3 linked regions of the Homo sapiens genome follow. The protein of the gene in region 3 purifies or fractionates together with the protein of the main gene of each other region. This does not show direct contact. Each region holds a gene or a part of one and is shown on either strand. Other genes may lie near its edges.

Evidence for each region.
Region 1: the proteins of RAB40A (region 3) and ISCA1 purify together in Homo sapiens (affinity purification with mass spectrometry; 3 studies listed by BioGRID and IntAct, with this or other methods). This does not show direct contact.
Region 2: the proteins of RAB40A (region 3) and PSME3IP1 purify together in Homo sapiens (affinity purification with mass spectrometry; 3 studies listed by BioGRID and IntAct, with this or other methods). This does not show direct contact.

The regions. Positions count from the first base shown.
Region 1 is NC_000009.12:86,265,539-86,275,444, reverse strand, and holds part of ISCA1 (iron-sulfur cluster assembly 1 homolog, mitochondrial precursor), read left to right. Parts: intron 1-1,202; coding exon 1,203-1,256; intron 1,257-3,332; coding exon 3,333-3,438; intron 3,439-9,253; coding exon 9,254-9,402; 3' UTR 9,403-9,906. UniProt on the Homo sapiens protein: Involved in the maturation of mitochondrial 4Fe-4S proteins functioning late in the iron-sulfur cluster assembly pathway. Probably involved in the binding of an intermediate of Fe/S cluster assembly.
Region 2 is NC_000016.10:57,161,825-57,169,039, reverse strand, and holds part of PSME3IP1 (PSME3-interacting protein), read left to right. Parts: intron 1-1,813; coding exon 1,814-1,947; intron 1,948-4,974; coding exon 4,975-5,039; intron 5,040-7,215. UniProt on the Homo sapiens protein: Promotes the association of the proteasome activator complex subunit PSME3 with the 20S proteasome and regulates its activity.
Region 3 is NC_000023.11:103,498,630-103,505,395, reverse strand, and holds the end of RAB40A (ras-related protein Rab-40A), read left to right. Parts: intron 1-2,513; exon of another isoform or gene 2,514-2,637; intron 2,638-4,493; exon of another isoform or gene 4,494-4,569; 5' UTR 4,570-4,639; coding exon 4,640-5,473; 3' UTR 5,474-6,266; downstream 6,267-6,766.

The sequences.
Region 1 (9,906 bases), on a different chromosome or scaffold from region 3:
CATCCATTGGGCTGGCTCTTCCAGGTGTCAGTCCTGGCCTCAGTTTACTACCAAGTCTTAGGTCGTAATATCCAGACTTTGAGACTTCACAAGCAGTCTCAAAGACTTTACTGTACAGTAAAATGTCAGTACAAGGGACTGGAGGGCCTGCAGAGCACTGCCAGCTAGAGGAGCTGATAAAGTAGGAAGGACGCACATAATGTCTTCATTATGATGTACTCTCATAATCATAATAATACTTGGTATTTTTGTGCCTGGCACTGTCCTGAATGCTTTCCATGAGTTTAAATATTTAATCCTCACAAGAATCAGGAGGAGGAGGAACTGTTATCCCTGTTTCACCAGTAAGGGAATAGAAGTCAGAGAAGCCACTTAGGGTGACTGCCCTGGAGGCACAGCTAGGAAGTGGGCCAGGAATGTCGGGGAACAGTCTCCTTCCCAAAGAAGTGGGGTTGGCAACACCGACCTATTTCACACAAACTGTGATGTTTTTCTCATTTTGAGGCCCGCTGAGCTATGTTAAAACAGCATTTCTCTGGGAAACAGCTCCTCCTTGTTCTTATTTCTGTCATTGACTAGCTTAGTTTTGTTCATCTAGATCTCCTGAGATGTTGGTTTAATCCACGTTGAAAAAAATCTATGTGAGCATTTGGTGGGACTGGTGCAAGAAGCACACCCTGGGTTATTTTATGCTGGTAACACTGTTTCCTCAAGCTATGCATTTTGATGGATTAGAAATGGATTGTGAGTAAGAAAAAAAAAAGCAGTAGGATTAATAATCAACAGGAAAAACACCTGAAGGTTGGCCTTCCCAGTGAGATACTTGATTCCTTCATTGGCTCTTTGTCGTAGGCAACATGCTGGTTCCTGGGCATAGAGTTGGTGCACAAAATAGATGCTGCCCAGAAAAATAGCATTTGTAATGTGAGTGAATAGCACCATAGAGAGAAGGACAGGGAACCAACCTGGACTGAGGAGCAAGATTAAAAGGATGTTGCTAGCAGATTTTTTTTTTAAATAAAGAGGATATTTTGAATTAGGTATAGTTTATGTGTTTCTATATAAAGTCCATAAGGTACCCTGGCAAGAATGGAACATAAATTTGTCACATGAATTTGCTAAAGACAGACTTACGAAGACTGATAAATATGAGGCTTTGAATAACAAGTTTTGTAGCTAAAAACATCATTTTCTTTTTTCAGACACCTTCAGCAGTAAACAAGATAAAACAACTTCTTAAAGATAAGCCTGAGCATGTAAGTAAAACCAGTTAATTATTCAGTAAAAAACTGAAGCTGCATTTTCAGAATGAATTTATCCCATGATATACAGTATTATTTCATTTAGGGGTTTTTATTTAAAATGTAAAATATACTCAGGATTTTTAAAAAATTCAAATAATACAAAAGGGTATTTAACTAAAAGGAAGTCATTCTTTCAACCTGACTCTTCGTCGTCATTCTTCCTTCCAAGAAGCAATCTCTTTGGTATCCTTCCAGGGATAATGTATACATTTGAAGCGGCTAGACCTGATTTTCTCAGCCTCCTCACAGTTGACACTTTAGGGCAGATTGTAGAATGTTTGACAGCATCTGTGGCCTCTGTCCATTAGATACCAGTAGTACCCCCTCTTTGCCTCAACCAAAGAATCCACATATGTGGAACCCACCGATACGGAGAGGTGACTGTATAGAGTAAAAGTATGGTGAGTACTATTTCACCAGCAGTTCCTGATTCCACAAAGCTTTGGTTGTCACAACCAAAAATGTCTCCCTGAGGGCAACCACTGGCCTAGACTGGGCTTGTTATTCCTGTGTATATCTCTTCCTACCATAAATTTTTTTGTTACACTTTGCTTTTTACCCTTAATAATGGCTTGAAGATCTTTCCATGTCATTATGTAATGATCTGCCTCCCTTTCTTGGCTGCATGTAGAGTATATTCCATTGAACAAGTTTGAGTTCTTTAACCAGTCCCCATATTAAAGGGTCGTTTTCATTCAGTGCTGCCGCAAACACCATTCAGCAACTATTTAGTGTCTGCAGTGTGCCAGGCTCATTGTTCTAGAACTGTAAGCATGGCTTAGTCCACCTACATAGGATCCATTCCTAGATACAGAATTGTTGAGTTAGGGATGTGTGTATCATCTTAATTGTACATTGTTAGTTGCCGATGGAATGCTGTAAATCATTTCAAGTAATGGATTGCAATATTTAATAATTAGACGGTGGGGTGATTTCTGGTTTCTGTTGTTAACCTACTACATTACAATGTAATGGAAGTTCTCAAACCTACCTTTTAAAATTATTAAATTTCAAAGGATATCAGTGTTCTGATTCAATTTGGATAGACCGATGAGTAGACTACAAATTGGCCTAATGAAACAAGAATTCGGCTTTGTAGAATCAGGAACTGCTGGTGAAATAGTACTTATGATACTTTTGCTGTATACAGTCACCTCTCCGTATCTGTGGGTTCCGCATACGTGGATTCAATCAACCATAGGTCAGAAATATTTGGGAAAAAAATAGAAGGTTGCATCTGTATTAAACATGTACAGACTTTCATTCTCTAAACAATACAGTATAACAACTGTTTATGTAGCATTACATTGTTACAGGTATTCAAGTCCTCCAGAAGTTATTTAAAGTACAGGGGAAGATGTATATAGGTTATATACAAATGCAGTGCCATTTGCATAAGGGACTTGAGTATCTGCAGATTTTTGTATACTCAGTTAGTCCTGGAACCAATTTCCCATGCATACTAAGGGATGACTGTATTTAAATGAAAAATCAGCTCAGCTCTAAGACAGAGAACTTAGGTAGATACTGTTTGAAAATTGCATTAATGTAAACATTGATACTTTTAAAGTGCTGTTTGGTCACTTTTTTAAACTTCTTTTGTCTGTATTGACTGCAGTCTTTTGCTTTCTGGTATTTGAGACTGTACACAAGTCTGCACTATAATTCAGATCCCATGTAGAGGTAGGATTGCCAGATGGTGGACTATGAACCCTGGTGAATCCTAACCATAAGGAAACATTCAGAGGATATCTCACAGAACAAGGTAGAGCAAAGACATTTTAAATAAAGTCCCAGGCTGGACGGGGTGGCTCCTGCCTTGTAATCCCAATGCTTTGAGAGGCCGAGGTGGAAGCGTTATTTGAGTCCACGAGTTTGAGACCAGTCTGGGCTACATAGTGAGACCCTGTCCTACAAAAAATAAGAGAAAGTCCATTTTGGTACGAGGAGGCTACTGTCACTTTATTAGTATAATTGTTTAATCTGTACTACTTTAAAACCAAGTTTATATTTTCACTTCTTTTTCAGGTAGGTGTAAAAGTTGGTGTCCGAACCAGGGGCTGTAATGGCCTTTCTTATACTCTAGAATATACAAAGACAAAAGGAGATTCTGATGAAGAAGTTATTCAAGATGGTGAGTTTTTAACAAACATTTTTTGGGCACATTGTTTTGCCTAAAATTATTAGCCTTGCACAGCACAAAGTAAAAAATAAGGATAGTAGCAGGAATTATGTAAATAATGCTCACTGTGTGTGTAGGTGTTGTTTGATGGAATTTCATGTATTAACTGATTTATACACAATGCTGAATGTGGGTGGTACCATATTATCCCTGTTTTTCTGATGAAGAAACTGAGGCACAGAGGGGTTAAATAGTTTAAGGTCATAATAAGTGGCCTAGTAAAATTCTTTCCAGAGACTGCTCTTAGTAACTAATTGATAAATTATTATATAAGCTTGTTTTAACTATGAAAGATCATCGTTGTGTCCAAAAAGTGAACCAGCCTTAAACCTCACAGTGAACCAACAGTTTTTGTGTAAGCAGTAGTTTTATATCTGTGTCAAATAAGTACGAGTTGAGCATTCCAATCCAAAAATCTGAAATCTGAAATGCTCCCAAATTCAAAACTTTAAAAGTGGGTGCTGACATGACACTCAGAGGAAATGCTCATTGGAGCTTTTTGGATTTGGGATGCTCAAGCAGTAAGTATAATGCAGATACAGTCATACATCACTTAACATTGGAGATACATTCTGAGAAATGTGACGTTAGACAAATATCCTGGGGTGTACTTAGACAAACCTAGACGGTCTGAGAAATGTGACATTGGACAAATATCCTGGGGTGTACTTACACAAACCTAGATGGTAGAGCCTACCATATGCCTCAGCTAGATAATATAACCTGTTGCTCCTAGGCTACAAACCTGTACTGCACGTGACTGTGCTGAATACTGTGCACAGTTCTGACACAATGGTAAGTATTTGTGTAAACGTACCTAAACAAAGAAAAAGTATAGTGAAATTTCTTTTATTATTATTATTATTATTATACTTTAAGTTTTAGGGTACATGTGCACAATGTGCAGCTTAGTTACATATGTATACATGTGCCATGCTGGTGTGCTGCACCCATTAACTCATCATTTAGCATTAGGTATATCTCCTAATGCTATCCCTCCCCCCTCCCCCCGCCCCACAACAGTCCCCAGAGTGTGATGTTCCCTTCCTGTGTCCATGTGTTCTCATTGTTCAATTCCCATCTATGAGTGAGAACATGTGGTGTTTGGTTTTTTGTCCTTGCGATAGTTTACTGAGAATGATGATTTCCAATTTCATCCATGTCCCTACAAAGGACATGAACTCATCATTTTTTATGGCTGCATAGTATTCCATGGTGTATATGTGCCACATTTTCTTAATCCAGTCTATCACTGTTGGACATTTGGGTTGGTTCCAAGTCTTTGCTATTGTGAATAGTGCCACAGTAAACATACGTGTGCATGTGTCTTTATAGCAGCATGATTTGTAGTCCTTTGGGTATATACCCAGTAATGGGATGGCTGGGTCAAATGGTATTTCTAGTTCTAGATCCCTGAGGAATCGCCACACTGACTTCCACAATGGTTGAACTAGTTTACAGTCCCACCACCAGTGTAAAAGTGTTCCTATTTCTCCACATCCTCTCCAGCACCTGTTGTTTCCTGACTTTTTAATGATTGCCATTCTAACTGGTGTGAGATGGTATCTCATTGTGGTTTTGATTTGCATTTCTCTGATGGCCAGTGATGACGAGCATTTTTTCATGTGTCTTTTGGCTGCATAAATGTCTTCTTTTGAGAAGTGTCTGTTCATGTCCTTTGCCCACTTTTTGATGGGGTTGTTTGTTTTTTTCTTGTAAATTTGTTTGAGTTCATTGTAGATTCTGGATATTAGCCCTTTGTCAGATGAGTAGGTTGTGAAAATTTTCTCCCATTTTGTAGGTTGCCTGTTCACTCTGATGGTAGTTTCTTTTGCTGTGCAGAAGCTCTTTAGTTTAATTAGATCCCATTTGTCAATTTTGGCTTCTGTTGCCATTGCTTTTGGTGTTTTAGACATGAAGTCCTTTCCCATGCCTATGTCCTGAATGGTAATGCCTAGGTTTTCTTCTAGGGTTTTTATGGTTTTAGGTCTAACGTTTAAGTCTTTAATCCATCTTGAATTAATTTTGGTATAAGGTGTAAGGAAGGGATCCACTTTCAGCTTTCTGCATATGGCTAGCCAGTTTTCCCAGCACCATTTATTAAATAGAGAATCCTTTCCCCATTGCTTGTTTTTGTCAGGTTTGTCAAAGATCAGATAGTTGTAGATATGCGGCGTTATTTCTGAGGGCTCTGTTCTGTTCCATTGATCTATATCTCTGTTTTGGTACCAGTACCATGCTGTTTTGGTTACTGTAGCCTTGTAGTATAGTTTGAAGTCAAGTAGCGTGATGCCTCCAGCTTTGTTCTTTTGGCTTAGGATTGACTTGGCGATGCGGGTTTTTTTTTTGGTTCCATATGAACTTTAAAGTAGTTTTTTCCAATTCTGTGAAGAAAGTCATTGGTAGCTTGATGGGGATGGCATTGAATCTATAAATTACCTTGGGCAGTATGGCCATTTTCACGATATTGATTCTTCCTACCCATGAGCATGGAATGTTCTTCCATTTGTTTGTATCCTTTTTTATTTCATTGAGCAGTGGTTTGTAGTTCTCCTTGAAGAGGTCCTTCACGTCCTTTTTAAGTTGGATTCCTAAGTATTTTATTCTCTTTGAAGCAATTGTGAATGGGAGTTCACTCATGATTTGACTCTCTGTTTGTCTGTTATTGGTGTATAAGAATGCTTGTGATTTTTGTGCATTGATTTTGTATCCTGAGACTTTGCTGAAGTTGCTTATCAGCTTAAGAAAATTTTGTAAAAGATCAAATGTGGTCGGGTGTGTTAACACAAGCCTGTTGTCCCAGCTACTCAGGAGACTGAGGCAGGAGGATTCCTTGAGTGTAGGAGTTCAAGAATGTAGTGCACTGGCCAGGCGTGGTGGCTCACCTGTGTAATCCCAGCACTTTGGGAGGCCGAGGTGGGTGGATCATGAGGTCAGGAGTTCACGACCAGCCTGGCCAACATGGTGAAACCCCATCTCTACTAAAAATACAAAAAATTAACTGGGTGTGGTGGCACACGCCTGTAGTCCCAGCTACTGGGAGGCTGAGGCAGGAGAATCGCTTGAACCCCAGGAGGCGGAGGTTGCAGTGAGCCGAGACCATGCCATTGCACTCCAACCTGGGTGAAAAAGTGAGACTCTGTCTCAAAAAAGAAAAAAAGACATCATAGTGCACTGTGTTCTTACCTGTGAATAGCCACTGCCCTTAAGCCTGGGCAACATAGCGAGACCTCCATCTCTTAAAAAAAAGAAAAAAAAAGGAAGAAGAAGAAGAAAATAAAACATGGTACACCTGTTTGTGGCAGTTACCATGCATGGAACTTGCAGGACTGGAAGTTGTCCGCGTGAGTCAGTGAGTGAGTAGGGAGTGATAAGTGAATGTGAAAGCCTAGGACGTTCCTCCGTAGTACTATAGACCTTATAAACCTTGTACACTTAGTCTTCAATAATAAATTAACCTTAGTTTACTGAAACTTTTTTACTTTGTAAGCTTTGGGGTTTTTTTTTTTTTTTTTGACTCTTTTGTGATAACATTAGCTTTGAAACACATTGTACAAATAACAAAAATTTTTTACGTTCTTATTCTATAAGCTTTTCTCTATTTTTAATTTTTTCTTTATAAACATTTTAATTAAAAACTAAGACAAAAACACACGTATTAACTTAGGCCTCCACAGGGTCAGGTTCATCAATATCCCTGTCTTCCACCACCTCCCCTCATCCCATTGGAAGGCCGTCAGGGGCAGTAACACTCATGGAGTTGTCATCTTCTGTGATAATGATGCCTTCTTCTGGATACCTCCTGAAGAACCTGCCTCAGGCTGTTTCACGGTTAACTTTTTTTTTTATAAGTAGAAGTACACTCTAAAATTTTAAACAATAAAAAGTATAGTAAATACATAAAGCAGTAACATAACCATTTATTATCATTATCAAGTATTATGTAGTGTACATAATTGAACATGCTTAGACTTTTATATGACTGGCAGTATAGGTTTGTTTACACCAGCATCACCACAAACACCTGAGTAATGGGTTGTCTTGTGATATTATGGTGGCTACAGCATTGCTAGGCAATGGGAATTTTCAGCTCCATTATAATCCTTTTTTTTTTTTTTTTTTTAATTTGAGATGGTCTCGCTCTCTCACCCAGGCTGGAGTGCAGTGGTGTGATCTCGGCTTGCTGCAACCTCCACCTCCCTGGTTCAAGCGATCCTCCCACCTCAGCCTCCCAAGTAGCTGGGATTATAGGCGCCCACCACCATGCCTGGTTCATTTTTGTATTTTTAGTGGAGCTGTATTATCAACTCATGTTTTTGAGGAATCCTGTATTTCCAATTTTTATTCAAAGCTATTTATTATAATTTAATTTATAATTAAAATTAATTATATTTGCTGCTGCCCCCTTCTTCCACCCTATAATCTGTTAAAACCTATCTAAAATAAATAATTTATCTTGTCATTGGAAGTATGCACTTAGCTTGCAGTTCTTACCTACATGGGAGAATGAGGCCTAGATTCCTAAGTGTGCTTTCTTATTAAACTAAAGTTATAACTATCAATAAAGACCTTTTAAAAATGTATTATTTTAAAAATTATAACACATTATAAACCTTAAGATTTTCATCTTAAAGAAGAGGTGACTTAATTATATATTGTTTATATTTAGCTAATGGCTCAATTTCTTGTAAGGAAGAAAGTTTTTTTGTTGTTTCGTTGTTTTGTTTGTTTGTTGAGACAGAGTCTTGCTCTCTTACCCAGGCTGGAGTGCAGTGGCACAATCATGGTTCACTGTAGCCTCTGTCTCCCGGGCTCAAGCAGTCCTCCCACCTCAGCCTCCCGAGTAGCTGGGACTACAGGTGCCCACCACTGTGCCCGGCTAATTTTTGTATTTTTAGTGGAGCCAGGGTTTTGCCCTGTTTCCCAGACTAGAAAGCTTTCTTAAATTGATTGTATTTGTTGGCTGGGCACTGTGGCTCACACCTGTAATCCCAGCACTTTGGGAGGCCGAGGTGGGAGGATCACTTGAGCCCAGGAATGCAAGACCAGCTTGGGCCACGTGGTGAAACCCTGACTCTAAAAAAATTAGTTGGTCCTGGTGGTATGTGCCTGTAATCCTGTGGGAGGATCGCTTGAGCCTGGGAGGTGGAGCTTGTGGTGAGCCATGATCATACCACTGCACTCCAGCCGGGGTGACAGAGTGAGACTCTGTCCAAAAAAAAAAAGATTGTATTTACAAAGATGCTGACCTCTACCTGTGTAATTACTAGGGAATAGTACCTGTTTTCCGTCCTGTAACCAGAAAAGACTATTGTTGTACTGATTGATGTTATTAAAATAGCCCCATTGTATCACAGTCCTTTGTACATCTTTAAGCTTGAATCCGTGTATCTAGTGTATTGCAGAATTTTCATAAATTTTTTTTTATTTCATAAAACTCATCGAGAATATACATTTTCTTCATGTTGCAAACTGGAAAAATGAGTGAAGTATAGTGAAAGGTAAATTCTAATTTTGCATAAAATTGTCATGGAATTTACTTGTATAAAATTCTCCCCTAATGTGATTGTGACATAAATTCATGTGTGGGAAAGAAGGGGCAGACAGGAAACTGAATGCTTAATTCCTTAAGGAAATAATTTAAAATGTTCAAGGCTTCTTGTTTGACTTTCATTGATAGTCACTATTTCAAGTTCACTTGTGCTTTGAATCAGCAAGTTCCATAAGGCTGCAGGCTTTCCATGACACATGTTTTCTTTTCTCCAAGGAGTCAGAGTATTCATCGAAAAGAAAGCACAGCTAACACTTTTAGGAACAGAAATGGACTATGTTGAAGACAAATTATCCAGTGAGTTTGTGTTCAATAACCCAAACATCAAAGGGACTTGTGGCTGTGGAGAAAGCTTTAATATTTGAAATCTCAGGACTCTTCTGGCCGTAGGTTCCAGGAAAGCTCGTGGAAGCTTTGGGGCTCACTGCAGAAATCATGTGACTGTCACGTGCTGGAAAATAAAGTGATACATCTTGAAAATGAATCCAGTGTGTTGGATTCCAGAAGAAATGATATTTATATTCTCTATAGGGGACAGAAAATGAGAAGCCATCACTCTTTTTGGATCATTTAGGTCTCTTGTATCCTTTGTTTTAGAACCAGTTTCATTAAAGTTGCCTTCCTGGGCACCTGTTTATCCATTTCCTGAACTGTGTGCACTCCTTAGATCGCTATTGATGGCTTGATCATCCCTCAGCATTTCTCCCAACCAGATCGGTGACTCCTAAAATCTGAGACAGGACATCGTGACTGCTGGTAGTAATATGGTGGTGCATTGTTTTTTCCACCCAAACTTAACATAGCCTTTTTATACATTTTTATGAAAAATTTCATTGTCAGCTGCCTCACTGCATACTCTTTAATAGTAC
Region 2 (7,215 bases), on a different chromosome or scaffold from region 3:
AAAGTTAAATGTTGGGTTTTGTCTATGTCGTGGTATAAATAATGTATAAATATATACATGCTTTTGTTGTGTTTTTTTTCCATTTTTGTTTTTTTTTAATATTTAATATTGAGAGTTTTGAGAACTTCTGTCTCCTAATGATGGAGTTGCAGATAAAAAATCACAACATGCTAATTTTTTTTTGGCATTCTCTCCTAGAAAGATGAAATCTTTTTTTTTTTTTTTTTTTTTTTTTTGAGACAGAGTTTCGCTCTTGTTACCCAGGCTGGAGTGCGGTGGCACGATCTCAGCTCACCACAATCTCTGCCTCCCGGGTTCAAGCGATTCTCCTGGCTCAGCCTCCCGACTAGCTGGGATTACAGGAATGTGCCACCACACCCAGCTAATTTTTTGTCTTTTTAGTAGAGACAGGGTTTCTCCATGCTGGTCAGGCTGGTCTTGAACTCCCGACCTCAGTTGATCTGCCCACCTCGGCCTCCCAAAGTGCTAGGATTACAGGCATGAGCCACTGTGCCTGGCCAATCTATTTTTTTTTAAATAAAAATGAGTATTAACATTATCTATTTCCATGATGACCCTAAAAACATTAAATTCATTAAACTCATAATAGTACTAAGCATTATATCTAATTTCCATTGCATACTGCAAATATTTAAGGTAACTTGTGCCCATAAGAACAGAGTTAGTTGCCTGGAGAGTGATTAGAATTAGAATCTTAGGATTTCTGGAAAATCTTAGGATTTTCTCCATTGTTCAAAGACACGTAGATAAATAACCTTAACCATACATCCTCTACTTCCACCCACCTTTTTGGGCTGATAATTCATGCTTCTTAGATTTCCTGGGCACTAGATGTCACTATTGTTCCAGGCACTAGTGCATCTTAAATAAGGACTTGCACTGTGTCAGAATACTTATCTGTTGTCTAAGACGTTTCAAGAGAGAGCATAAAACGGAGGGAGAAGTGGAGGGAGAGGAGGGAGGGCTGGTGGAGGGAACAAGTGAAAGTGACCTCCCCGACAAAAATATGGGGCCTTTCTTCACTTCAAAAGAGTAAAAAGTTGAGAGCCAGAGATTGGCATCAAGAACGAAAAACTGATGTTACAAGCGAACTGGTCATGCTTTTAAAAATAGCTTTTCAGTTCTTGTATATATGCACAGGATTTCTCATTAAAATCACCTTTGATTGTTTCTTGGCCTTTTGGCTAAGATCAAGTGTAAAATCACCTTCAGAGAGTGTTTAAAACAAACTCCCGGGCCTCTAGAGGTCTCATTCAGTAGGTTTGGGGCAGGGAGGGACTTGACATGTTTAATGAGCCTTGGGGTGATTCTGATGTTTCCTTGCACCAGTGGAGCAGGAGTTAGTCTTCGTGATGTCTAAGATTAATTGCCACTGATAGTCAGAACAACATTCTGCAAAATTTGATTTAACCCTTGAAGGGGGAAGCATGTTTTCAGGGAAGCCACATTTTTTTTTCTGTTTTCTTTATATTCCTTAAGATCTGTTTTCCTCATCAAGCATGATATTGGCCATGTCCTTGGTAATAGTGGGTTTTGTGGCTATGCTCAGATTTTCATTGAGAATCAGAGGAAAAGGTTGCTTATCTGTATTATTTTGGGCTTTATATGCTGTCTTCCTCCATGGTCTCTTTCATTTATCTTTGAATTGGCTGGATTTGACTGGCAGAATAAAGAAGGGTGGGGCATTTATTTAAATAAGTAGGCCAGACATTACATCGCACAGCCGAAGGGCTAGTGGGTTATATTTGTTGTCTTCCCTTTTGCTTAGTTTGACCCTTAACTGGTAACTCACAATAACCTCAAGAAGGTTGGAATTTCTCAAGAGAACAAGAAGGAAGTGGAAAAGAAACTGACTGTGAAGCCTATAGAAACCAAGAACAAGTTCTCCCAGGCGAAGCTGTTGGCAGGAGCTGTGAAGCATAAGAGGTTAGTCAGCACTCACACAACTCAGATTTCTCTCTGACCGTGTACTCTGAAACACCACTTGTAATGGAAGCCAGAGCCAACGCTTGCCTCGCGTGAGTCCTGGTGAAGTTCCCTTGGTGTGCTCACCTATCTCTCCCTTTCCAGATTTGAGGCCTTCTATAGGCTTTGACCCTCGTCTCTCTGATCACTTATTCAACAAATATAAATAATAGCTACTCTTCAGTGGGGATCTGCCACACCAGGCATTGTGTTAAGTGCTTCCTGTGCATAATCCCATGTATTCTTCAACAACCCTATGAAGTACAATTATAATCCCTGTTTTGTAGATGAGAAGACCAAGAGTTTGAGAGGTTGAGACCCTTCTTTGTGCAAGATCATAGAGAAACAGAGAGCTAGAGTTCATTATTTGGGCTTCTGTCTAGAAAAATGAGGTAGTGAGTCTTGTGAAAGGATCTGTGTAGGGTGTACTGAGAGCAAGGAGGAGGAGCATACAATGCTGCTGGGAGGGTGTTGTGTGCATCTTCATGTTGGGGAGGTTGGGGGAAACCATTGGAAAGATGCTGATTAGGTAGGACAACTAGGGCTTTGACAAGCAACAAGGGAGAGAACAGTCTAAGCAGAGGGAATAGCTGCTGCAAAGGCATCCTGTCCTGAAAGAACATGGCAGCCCTGGCAGGGTTACAGACCTGGCTGTGGCTAGGTTTGGATTGATGTGGAAGTGATAGCACTGTCTCAAGGCTATGATAAGTTCTTTGCTATGTTTGCTCCTCCCTTTCCAAATCCTGAAATGTCATCAGAGTGATTGAATCTGGTCATTTAGATTTGACCCAACAGACTGTGGGCGAAATGATAAGTTTAAGTGCAGTCTATTAGGAAAATCAATATGATATATTGGCAACCAGCCATATGTTTTGAAGGGAGTGTATTGATGCAGTCTTGTGGTTTGGCACACCACCCATCTGCTGCAGATGTTCTTAGGAACACTGCCTACATGTAAAAATGTCATGCTGGTATAGCAACAGAGGGGAGGAGTTATCCTGAGAAGGGCTCGCTACCCAAACCATGAATTATTCCTTTCAAGTTCTCACATAAGCTTTCCTGCAAGACTAGGGACTCGCAGGATTTGGACCTGGGTCAGTTTTACTGGAATATGCCAAGGGAGGGCTCTCCAGGTGATCAATTTGTTATCCCTTGAGACTGCTCTTGGTGGTCGCAGAATGGGTGTTGTAACTGTTTCCCTTAGTTCTTAGATCACCTTTAGAAAAGGCTCTGTAGTAGCGTATTTGGTGACCTGCATATAACCCCTTTTGGGTTTTGAAACAACATCATTTAATGTTTCTTTGTGTAGTAAGGTAGTCTCCTGGGGCAGGAGTTCCTAATCTGTCCGACCCTGAGTTTATTGGAATCACCTGGGAGTTTGTTAATAATTTATATTCGCAGGCCTTGCACTAATTCTGGTTCAGTAAGTTTGAAGTGAAGTCTGGGAGTCGTAGTTTTCAAAGTTCCATGAGTGATTCTGCTGCCTGGTGAAGGTCTGGAAGCCATTGGCATGTATATGTCATGAAGCATAAGACCAAAACAAGCAGCAATTTCTTACCTTCTTCAAAGGAATATTCTTTACTCTCTTCTAGTTTATTCTTTTATTTATTGTTAGAAAAAACTGTCAGATACCTAGTTCATGAATGTGCAGTCTTTTTAGTTATGAGCATCTGAAGCTATAAATTTTCCTTAACTTTCATTGTATATGAGTTTTATATTTCCTTCTAAGTATTTTAAAATATCCATTATGATTTCTTCTTTGACTCAGGAATTATTTAGAAATGTATTTTTTAAATCTCCATATTGAGGTAACAACCATATTTCAGTGAGGGGAAAGATAAGCCTTCCCCCTCGCCACACACGTTTTAACACCTTATGATGATATATATATATATATATAACAGTGTCTTAGAGGCTGCAAAATATGTTTCTCTTTTGTCATTGATTTCCAACTTAATTGCATGTGGTTTTGTATACTCTGATTCTCTTTTCTTTTTCTTTTCTTTTTCTTTTTCTTTTTTTTTTTTTGAGCTGGAGTTTCACTCTTGTCGCCCAGGCTGGAGTGCAATGGCGCAATCTTGGCACACCTGTGCCTCCCGGGTTCAAGCGATTCTCATGCCTCAGCCTCCCAAGTAGCTGGGATTACAGGCATGCACCACCTTGCCTGGCTAATTTTGTATTTTTTGTAGAGACAGGGTTTCACCATGTTGGCCAGGCTGGTGTCAAACACCTGACCTCAGGTGATCCGTCCGTCTTGGCCTCCCAACGTGCTGGGATTACAGGCGTCAGCCACCGCACCCGGGCCTCCCACATAAGTCTTAAATGGAACCTGCTGTGTACTCCCTGCAAGAAAATACCAACTAGTACATACACACAGTAATGTCCCCAGTCTTAGAGGTGACTTCAGTATGGTCTGTTGAACACCACAAACTAGACATTATTTTTTGATACAGTATTTGTTTAGATTTATATTTGTATTTGCCAGTTTATTTGTTCACCACCCCTTCCTTCTGGGGTCCCTTCCTTCTGGGATCATTTCTTTCTTCATTGAAATACATTCCTTATACATTGTTTTAGTGAAAATCTTGTGGGTGACTCTCAGAATCTCTAGCATGTCACTAAAGATGTTTTCTTCAATCTGTAATTACTAAATGTTTGTCATTTATGAACATGTCTAAATATTCTTGAAATCCATCTGTGGTTCTAACCAATTTGAGTGATAAAGACGGCCAAGAATCTGAAGTTGAAGTGATGGTTGATACAGTGCTTTATTTCCTGGATTTGTCAGGAGTTTAAATTGTCTTTATGACTGATGATGCAATTGGAAGGAGATTAAGAATCTGAAATGAATACTTTTCATTCATTTTTATCATCCCAGCCTCTTGAGACTGCCTAAGACCCATATAAATAGTTATTGGAGCTCCTGATTCCCTAAGCTTTGATCCACAAGATTGGACATGGCTCAAGTCACCATGTGTTTTGTTACAGCTCAGAGAGTGGCAACAGTGTGAAAAGACTGAAACCGGACCCTGAGCCAGATGACAAGAATCAAGGTGGGTGGCAGCCTTCATTACTTCCTTGTACTCAGAATACACATGAACCACAGTAAAGGGCTGTAATGCATTGCTTCTGCAAATGAATGCATTTCTGTCTTCAAGCAAGCCTACCTATGCTTAATTTACCCAACTTTTTTATGCCAGGCAGGATTTTATTACCAGGCCAGAGTTTATACCAGGCAGGATTTTATACCTGCAAAAGTTATTATATTAGAAACCAGTGAAACTGATCAATGAAAATAGTACTCTCCCAGGAGTGCTTACCAGGCCCTGGTCATACCACCTCTGCTCACAAAAGGTGTTTTTCTGTTTCCCCCAAATGTCAGGTTTCTTGATTTCACCTGGTTTGCTACCAGTGGGAGGTAAATACCTGGCTCCTGCTCATTGTTGTACTGGATTGAGCCTAGAAGCTTAATACAATCTCAAGGAGTATACTTCTTTGGTTTTTACTTTTATGTGATGAAATCTGCCTCTGTATTAAGAGGCAAGAACTTGTAAGTGAAGGTGAATGTTACTGGGGCTGGATTAGGGATGAGAAATTCGAGTGTGTTTTCAGTTTTATTCTAACTCCATGTGGGATTGAGACTCTGAACTAAATTCCATCGATCAACAGGGCTTACATTAATTTCTCTCAAAAAAAGATGATGCTTTTTAATATGCATCTACTAAGCACCAGTGGTGGTGGTCTGTTGCTGTTACCCTTTTGGTCTAGAACCTACTTTTAAAAAGAAGAGTCTGGGGGAAAAAAAAAGGAGCCTGCCTTTTACCCGTATCTCTTCCATCTAGTTCTCCTTAGAGGGAAACAGAATTATACTTTTTTTTTTCTTTTTTTTGAGATGGAGTCTCACTCTGTCACCCAGGCTGGAGTGCAGTGGCTCAATCTCAGCTCACTGCAACCTCCGCCTCCTGGGCTCAAGTAATTCTCCTGCCTCACCCTCCCGAGTATTTGGGATTACAGGCGTGCGCCACCACACCTGGCTAATTTTTGTATTTTTAGTAGAGACAGGATTTCACCATGTTGGCCAGGCTGGTCTTGCACTCCTGACCTCAAGTGATCTGCCTGCCTCGGCCTCCCAAAGTGCTGGGATTACAGGAGTGAGCCACCAAGCCCAGCCACATTTCTTATGTAGCCATCAAGAGCTATTCTATGCATGTGCAAGCAATTGTAAATATGTATCTTTTAAATGCTTTATTATGGATAATTTAAGCAATATTCAGAAGTTGGAATAAGTATAATAAACCCCCATTACCAAGCTTCACTGATTTTTTTTTTTTCTTTGTAAGGTATCTCCTACAGGAAAGACCGTCAACAATTTTTTTTTTTTTTTTTTTTGAGACAGGGTCTTGCTCTATCACCCAAGATAGAGTGTAGTGGGGTTATCTTGGCTCATTGCAGCCTCTGCCTTCCTGGTTTAAGCAATTTTCATGCCTCAACCACCCAGGTAGCTAGGACTACAGGCATGTGCCACCACGCCCAGCTAATTTTTGTATTTTTAGTAGAGACGGGATTTCGCCATGTTGGCCAGGCTGGTCTCGAACTCCTAGCCTCAAGTGATCCACCTGCCTCGGCCTCCCAAAGTGCTGGGATTACAGGTGTGAGCCACCACACCCAGTCAGCAGTTTTTAACACATAGCCAATTTTATTTCATTTATATCTCTCAACTGTAATATTTTGTGACAATTCCAGACATTATATCATTTCATTCATAATTCTTAATATATGTCTCTAGCAAATACAAGTTCTTATTTTGTTTCTTTGTTTTAACAATTACAGTACCATTATATTAATAATCACAGGCCAGGCGCAGTGGCTCATGCCTATAATCCCAACACTTTGGGAGGCTGAGGCAGGCAGATCACCTGAGGTTGGGAGTTTGTGACCAGCCTGACCAACATGGAGAAACCCTGTCTCTACTAAAAATACAAAATTAGTCGGGCTGCTGGCTATGCCTGTAATCCCAGCTCCTCAGGAGGCTGAGGCGGAAGAATCGTTTGAACCTGGGAGGCAGAGGTTGCGGTGAGCCGAGATTGCACCATTGCTCTCCAGCCTGGGCAACAAGAGCGAGACTCTGTCTCAAAAATAATAATAATAATAATCACAGTAATTACCAAATATTATCGAATATTAAGTTAGTATTTTCTCCAATTGTCTCAAAAAAGTTTTTTCTTTTTA
Region 3 (6,766 bases):
TGCATACCTATGAGCCAGCAATTCCAATCTTTGATATACTCAACAGAATCGTGTACATATACCCACTAAAGACAGGCACAAAACTGTATGTAGTAGTACTATAACATTAGTCAAACTGTGGGCATAACCCAAATATCATCCAACAGATAACTTGTAGTATTCATAAAATGAAATACTCTACCACAATTAGAATGCTCATTTTAATGTTGCCATATGCAAAATCATGGATATATCTCACAAGGATAATATTAAGCAAAACAAAGCAGAAACAAAAAAGTATAATTTCAGGTAAATAAAATATGAAAAGTTCGTAAACAGGCAAATCTCTAGTGTTAGAAGTTAATGTAGTTTACTTTTGGAGGTATAATGACTTGTAAGGGCATAAAGGAAGCTCCTGAAGTGAAGATAATGTTCTATTTCTTTCCCTTTTTTACTAGTAAATTCTGCTTTTATTATTAAAAGTTCTTGTAAACATAAGTGTCTCTTCAATGATATAAAAATTTCCCCTTCTTTAAGATTAAATATAAAACATTAATTAAAATATTCAAGGCAATGAAGTTAAATTCTAATGCCTAGCTGGGTGTGGTGGCTCACGCCTGGAATCCCAGCACTTTGGGAGGCTGAGGCGGGTGGATCTCATGAGGCCAGGAGTTCAAGACCAGCCTGGCCAACATGGTGAAACCCCATCTCTACTAAAAATATAATAATTAGTCGGGTGTGGTGGCGCATGCCTATAATCCCAGGTACTCAGTACGCTGAGGCACGAGAATCGCTTGAACCTGGGAGGCGGAGGTTGCAGTGAGCTGAGATTGTACCACTGCACTCCAGCCTGGGCGTCAGAGCAAGACTGTCCAAAAAATAAAATAAAATAAAATAAAAATATATATATATTCTGATGCCTTTCTGTAGTCAATGAAATGGACCTGAAAGAAAGAGGCATAGTGAATTTTAAAAAATGATGTACCCAAACTTTGAAAAAATGTTGCTGTCTTCCAAAAAATAAGTTAGCTGAGATGTTTCTTCATTATAGGAGGCAGAATGTTCTTCTCTTTTAAGTTTCAGCTTTTATTTTAGATCCAGGGGGTACATGTGCAGGTTTGTTACATGGGTATATTGTGTGATGCTAAGGTTTGGGATATGAATGATCCCATCACCCAGGTAGTGAGCATAGTACCCAATAGTTTTTCAACCCTTGCCCCACCTCTCCCCACTCCTCCAGTAGGCCCCAGGGTTTGTTGTTGCTATCTTTACGTCCATGAGTCCCCAATGTTTAGTTTCCACTTATAAGTGAAAACATGTGGTATTTGGTTTTTTGTTCCTGTGTTAATTTACTTAGGATAATAGCCTCCAGATGCATCTATGTTGCTGCAAGGGACATTATATTGTTCTTTTTTATGGCTGTGACAAAATACTTTTGAACAGATTGTCAAAAGTACTGTGCACATGTTTATTAATTTGAGAAAGCATTCATTATATTCTATTTTATGGTGAAAACAGGAAATAATTTGACAGGGTATTTGCATGTGTGTGTGTGTCTAGGTCTAGCTGTATCACTCCAAATACACACTCACAGATGCAGCTTTACCTTTAATGCAGACAGGGGCTGGAGCCAATCTCAGTTTCACATATACCAGAACATGACTAATACACAGAGATTGCTATCGTTAGGTGAATAATTCCAGAAAACTCTGGCTAATATCTTTGTAGTTCACCTCCAACATCCCTCTCCCTTTCCCTGAGCCCCTTGTCTGAGACTCTCAAAGCTGTGATCCGGGTTCTGGCCATCAGGAGGCATCACAGCTATCTCCATTTTTTTTTTTTTTAAAGGAGGACATTTTGCAAAGAGTGACAAACTACGATGCCAGTTCTGTTTGAAAAATATACGTATATTAAAGCTGGTCCATTGGCTGTGGACTCCAAATCTACATGGCATTCACTGATTTATCTCTTCCCTCCTCAGTATACGTTGTCCCGTGCATGCTGTGGAGAGGTCCCTCACAGACAGCAGGGCATTTAGCCTCCATTGCCCGTGCATAAGCTTCCCAGACCTCCTCCCATTCCCTTTCAGTCCTCCCTTCTCTAGGATCCTATGGACACAGTTGCCCAGACCCTGCTCCTGTGACCTCTATCCTCTCTGTCACCTTTCTACAGCCCTGTCAGTGCTACCTGGTGTTTCATGCCCTGGCGCATATGTTTTTACAGTCTTGTTTTACATCTATCAATCAATTTTTTTCTTTCTAGCTTGGGAAGTGAATTTGGGTCTGCTCAGAGGCATGATGTTCAACAGCTTTTATTAGATTATGAGACATCCAAGAATGTAGAGAACATTCTGTCTCTAAAACTTTGAACTCAAGGCATATCAGAGAGAGATTTGCTTTCTTTATATGGATGTCTGTGTTCTCATTAGTAGAAACAATGAAAAATGACTTTTCACAATGCCTTCTTAGCCCAGAGGCTCAGCCAGCCCCCACTTCTGTGTCTCAGCATTTAAAGGGCCATTGAAGTCCCACTTCATGCCGTATACTCTCAACAGGTTTTCTCATTTGCTCCTTGGGACAGCTCGGTAAGGATGATACAGTCAGTTCTATCTCACAGATAATCAAGCTCAGGCTTTCAGAGCCTAAGTCACCTTCCCAGGTAAGTGGCAGGATTGGAATGAGGTTTCATCCCTCACCCTCCCTAAAGGACCCTGAGCACCCCCTTTTAGAAGATGGGCTTCCAGGGCTTGAGAAATGTCAGATTCCACTCCCCTGCTATTGTGGCCCCATGGGTCCCCCACTCCACAACCCCTCTGGGTGATGAGGAAGACAGAAGTGAAATCCTGCACTTTATGCCAAGAGACTGGGTGTGGGACCGTATGAGTTGGCTGATCCCTTAAGTGGTGAGTGGGCTCAGGCAGAAGCTTAGGTGTTGGCCTTGGGACAGGTGAGCTGAAGAGAAGGAAAGTAACCTGCACTGAACTACTTTAGGCAAATGCACTCTATATTTCATCTCCTTTATCCTAACGGCTGTTCAAGGTACCGATGATTATGATCATTATTCCAATCAGGGTGCTGTCTTTAAGGGAGTTTGTGTAAATCAGGGAGAGAACTTTATTATCTCCTTATTGTCAGCTAAATCTGGAATTAATCTAAAGGTTTTTTTTTTCTCTATTTGCCCTGAAGCCCACAGAGAAATAGAAATGTTTTTCTTATCCTTTATTCACGTTTGTTCTGTATTGATGAGTATTTAGAATGTTTCTCATTTTTTCCTTTTTAAAAAGATTTCAGCAATGCTATTTCAAATAACCACTTACCTGGCTATTTTGGACATGTGAAAATTTTTTCCTCCATTACATTTGTAAACATCTATCCCTTGGGGCTTGATTTCAATAATTTAAACTCCCTTATATGTGTATGAGCATTCTCATTTCTTTAACCATCTTTGTACCTGTTGTAGTTACAATATTTAAGTGTATTTATAACTGATAAGTGTGTTTCCATTTCCTTGATGTATTTGGTCCCTCATCCTGCCCCCATACACAGACACACACAGAGCCTTTTTCTTTTGCATCTTTTTCTTTTGCAAATTAAAAAAAAATTCTTTTTCGGTTTTTTTCTACATTTAAATTTTGTCAGATGATAGGTGATAAAAGGATATTTAGATGGTTTCATTAGCATTCTTTAATGTATTAGTGAGCTAGAATGCATTTTCTTGTGATTACTGGCCATTTGCGTTTCTTCACCTGTGAACCATATACATATTTTTTCAGTTTTGTTATTTTGTTATAGGAGCTGTACATGTGTTAAACCTAAAACCCTTCACTGATGGATGCATGCATTATTTCAACACATCTTTGTTGGGTGAATATTATTTATGAGACACTCTAGCAAAATCCATGTCCTAGATATCTCTTCTGAGATCTTGGCTCTTATATTTATGGGAGATGTCCCCCTGCAGCAAGAAAAGTATTAGTGCCCATGTAAACATGCGTGGCTTGTCAAGGATCACATGCACAGACAGTTCACACTTACTCCTAAACCCGGCATGGCCACAGAGTAGAAAGGGTGTGTAGTGCGTTATATGAGGAGAGCACTGGCTCAGGATTGTGATTTCTGTGATCTCTATATTAATGGCAATGTTTTAAAAAATTACATAACATTTCTGAGTTTGCCTTTTCTCATTTGTAAAATGGAAACAATTATAGCTACCAAAGACAACTGTTCTGAAAGCAAAAGAACAAAATATTTTAAGCGTCATACACAGCATAGGGTACGTACAGTACTCAACACATCTTAGTCCCTTTCCTATCCCATACCCGTCCTTCCTTTAAAGGAGATTCCTTTGACATAATCCAAAAGGCATGGTTCCATAACGATCACATGAAAGTTTTAAGGGAAATGTATAGGTTTCCATGATGAATTAACTGCTGTGTCACTACTCTGTGCTGGGTAAGAAAAAGGAAAACAATCGCTGAATCAGTTTCCTAGGGTTTGTAAAAGAAATCCATCAAAGCCACCACCTCATTTCGCTTTATTTCACAGACTTCCCCATCTCATTTTTTATGTTCTATGCTAATTTCTCAAGAAGAACAGGCCCGGCACCACCTCTGCGCACAACCCCGCGGGCCTGGCTCAGGCGGGAGTGCGGGGCCAGCACCATGAGCGCCCCGGGCAGCCCCGACCAGGCCTATGACTTCCTGCTCAAGTTCCTGCTGGTGGGCGACAGGGACGTAGGCAAGAGTGAGATCCTGGAGAGCCTGCAGGATGGTGCAGCTGAGTCCCCGTACAGCCATCTCGGGGGGATCGACTACAAGACGACCACCATCCTGCTGGACGGCCAGCGGGTGAAGCTGAAGCTCTGGGATACGTCGGGGCAGGGAAGATTTTGTACCATATTCCGCTCCTACTCTCGTGGTGCACAAGGAGTGATCCTGGTCTACGACATTGCAAACCGCTGGTCTTTCGAGGGTATGGATCGATGGATTAAGAAGATTGAGGAACATGCCCCTGGTGTCCCTAAAATCCTGGTGGGGAATCGCCTACATCTGGCATTCAAGAGGCAGGTGCCCAGGGAGCAGGCCCAGGCCTACGCCGAGCGCCTGGGTGTGACCTTCTTTGAGGTCAGCCCTCTGTGCAATTTCAACATCATAGAGTCTTTCACGGAGCTGGCCAGGATAGTGCTGCTGCGGCACAGGATGAATTGGCTCGGGAGGCCGAGCAAGGTACTGAGCTTGCAAGACCTCTGCTGCCGCACCATCGTGTCCTGCACACCTGTGCATCTGGTGGACAAGCTCCCGCTCCCCAGTACCTTAAGAAGCCACCTCAAGTCCTTCTCCATGGCTAAGGGCCTGAATGCCAGGATGATGCGAGGCCTCTCCTACTCCCTCACCACCAGCTCCACTCACAAGAGCAGCCTCTGCAAAGTGGAGATCGTCTGCCCACCCCAGAGCCCACCCAAAAACTGCACCAGAAACAGCTGCAAAATTTCTTAAGGAAGGCACCAAAAGGAAACAAGCTGGAATCGCTCCAGGAAAAACTCTGGTTACACCTGGAAGATGGAAGTCGCATTGTAGATTCAAGAAATTAGTTTTCAGTTTCTCACGGGAACCATGCTGCTTGGGAATGTGTGTGATGCCTTCTGTCAATAAAAACACATTACACAGTTTGACTTTGAATTTCTATTTGGATGTGCATGAAGCTCTTGTTTTAAACGTGTGTTTATAAAGGGGAAATTAGTACTTTGCTCAACTCTTGATAACGTGAAATTTTGAATGTTACTTATATCATAATCACGCTGCAACTTTTTCCTTAAAATAACCGCCTTTGTTAGAATGGTGATATGGCAATGATGAGTATAAATTCAAGGAAATTTGAGAAGCAATGATAGTGAGATAATTCAGTCATCGATAGTACAAGAGGGGCCTTTTTGTAAACCTCCTTTTTAATGTCAAAGCACCAATTTATAAAACACTGCAGATGCATATAGAGATTGTATATAACAGATCTGTCCAGCTTGTGCATGAAATGGATTTGATAAAGTTTTTGCTATGTTATTTACTACATTTGGGGATTAATACGTGATTTATATGTATGTTTTTCTGTAAATCTACTTTTTTTGTACGAGATGTTCTACAAGATATGAAGCTAAGGGAGGAAAACACCAAAGATATCTCTAGTTATGTTGAACATAGCCAATATGGTTTCAATGGATCAATAAGAAAAAACCATTTCAGTAAGGAATGAAATACGTACTTATTTGAGAAAATGTTTCTTAACAGTAAAAAAGTATATATTTTTCTCTTTGGTAAAACGAAAAGAGAGGAAAAATATGTATAGTGTAACCCCGCAAGATGAGGCTTTGCAGAAAAACAATGCAATAGAACATGGCGGGGCAGGCCCATTATAAGGCCTTAGGTGAGTCATTTCCCCTGTGCTGGCCAGTTTTGGTTAACACCTCTCAGATCAATATAGAGGTTAATGAGATCACATCTGGGAAAGCACTTCTGAGACCTTAGATGGGAAAGAAGGAGAAGTGGTTTCCACGTAGTTACTTTCCAATTTACACTGTTGATTATTATAATAATTGATATTGGATGAACTGAGTAAATATAAGTCCTTGTACTCTTTTGTAATTGAATGACCATTTATTTGTGCATTGTCATAGGGTGATTGTAACAAAGTCCCGCAGAAGGGCAGTATCTCTGGCCTCACGGAGCTGTGGGGACTCACCCTTCCTGAACGCTGGTACTTTTCTATCTCATGAATTTCCCACAACATTCCTGGGA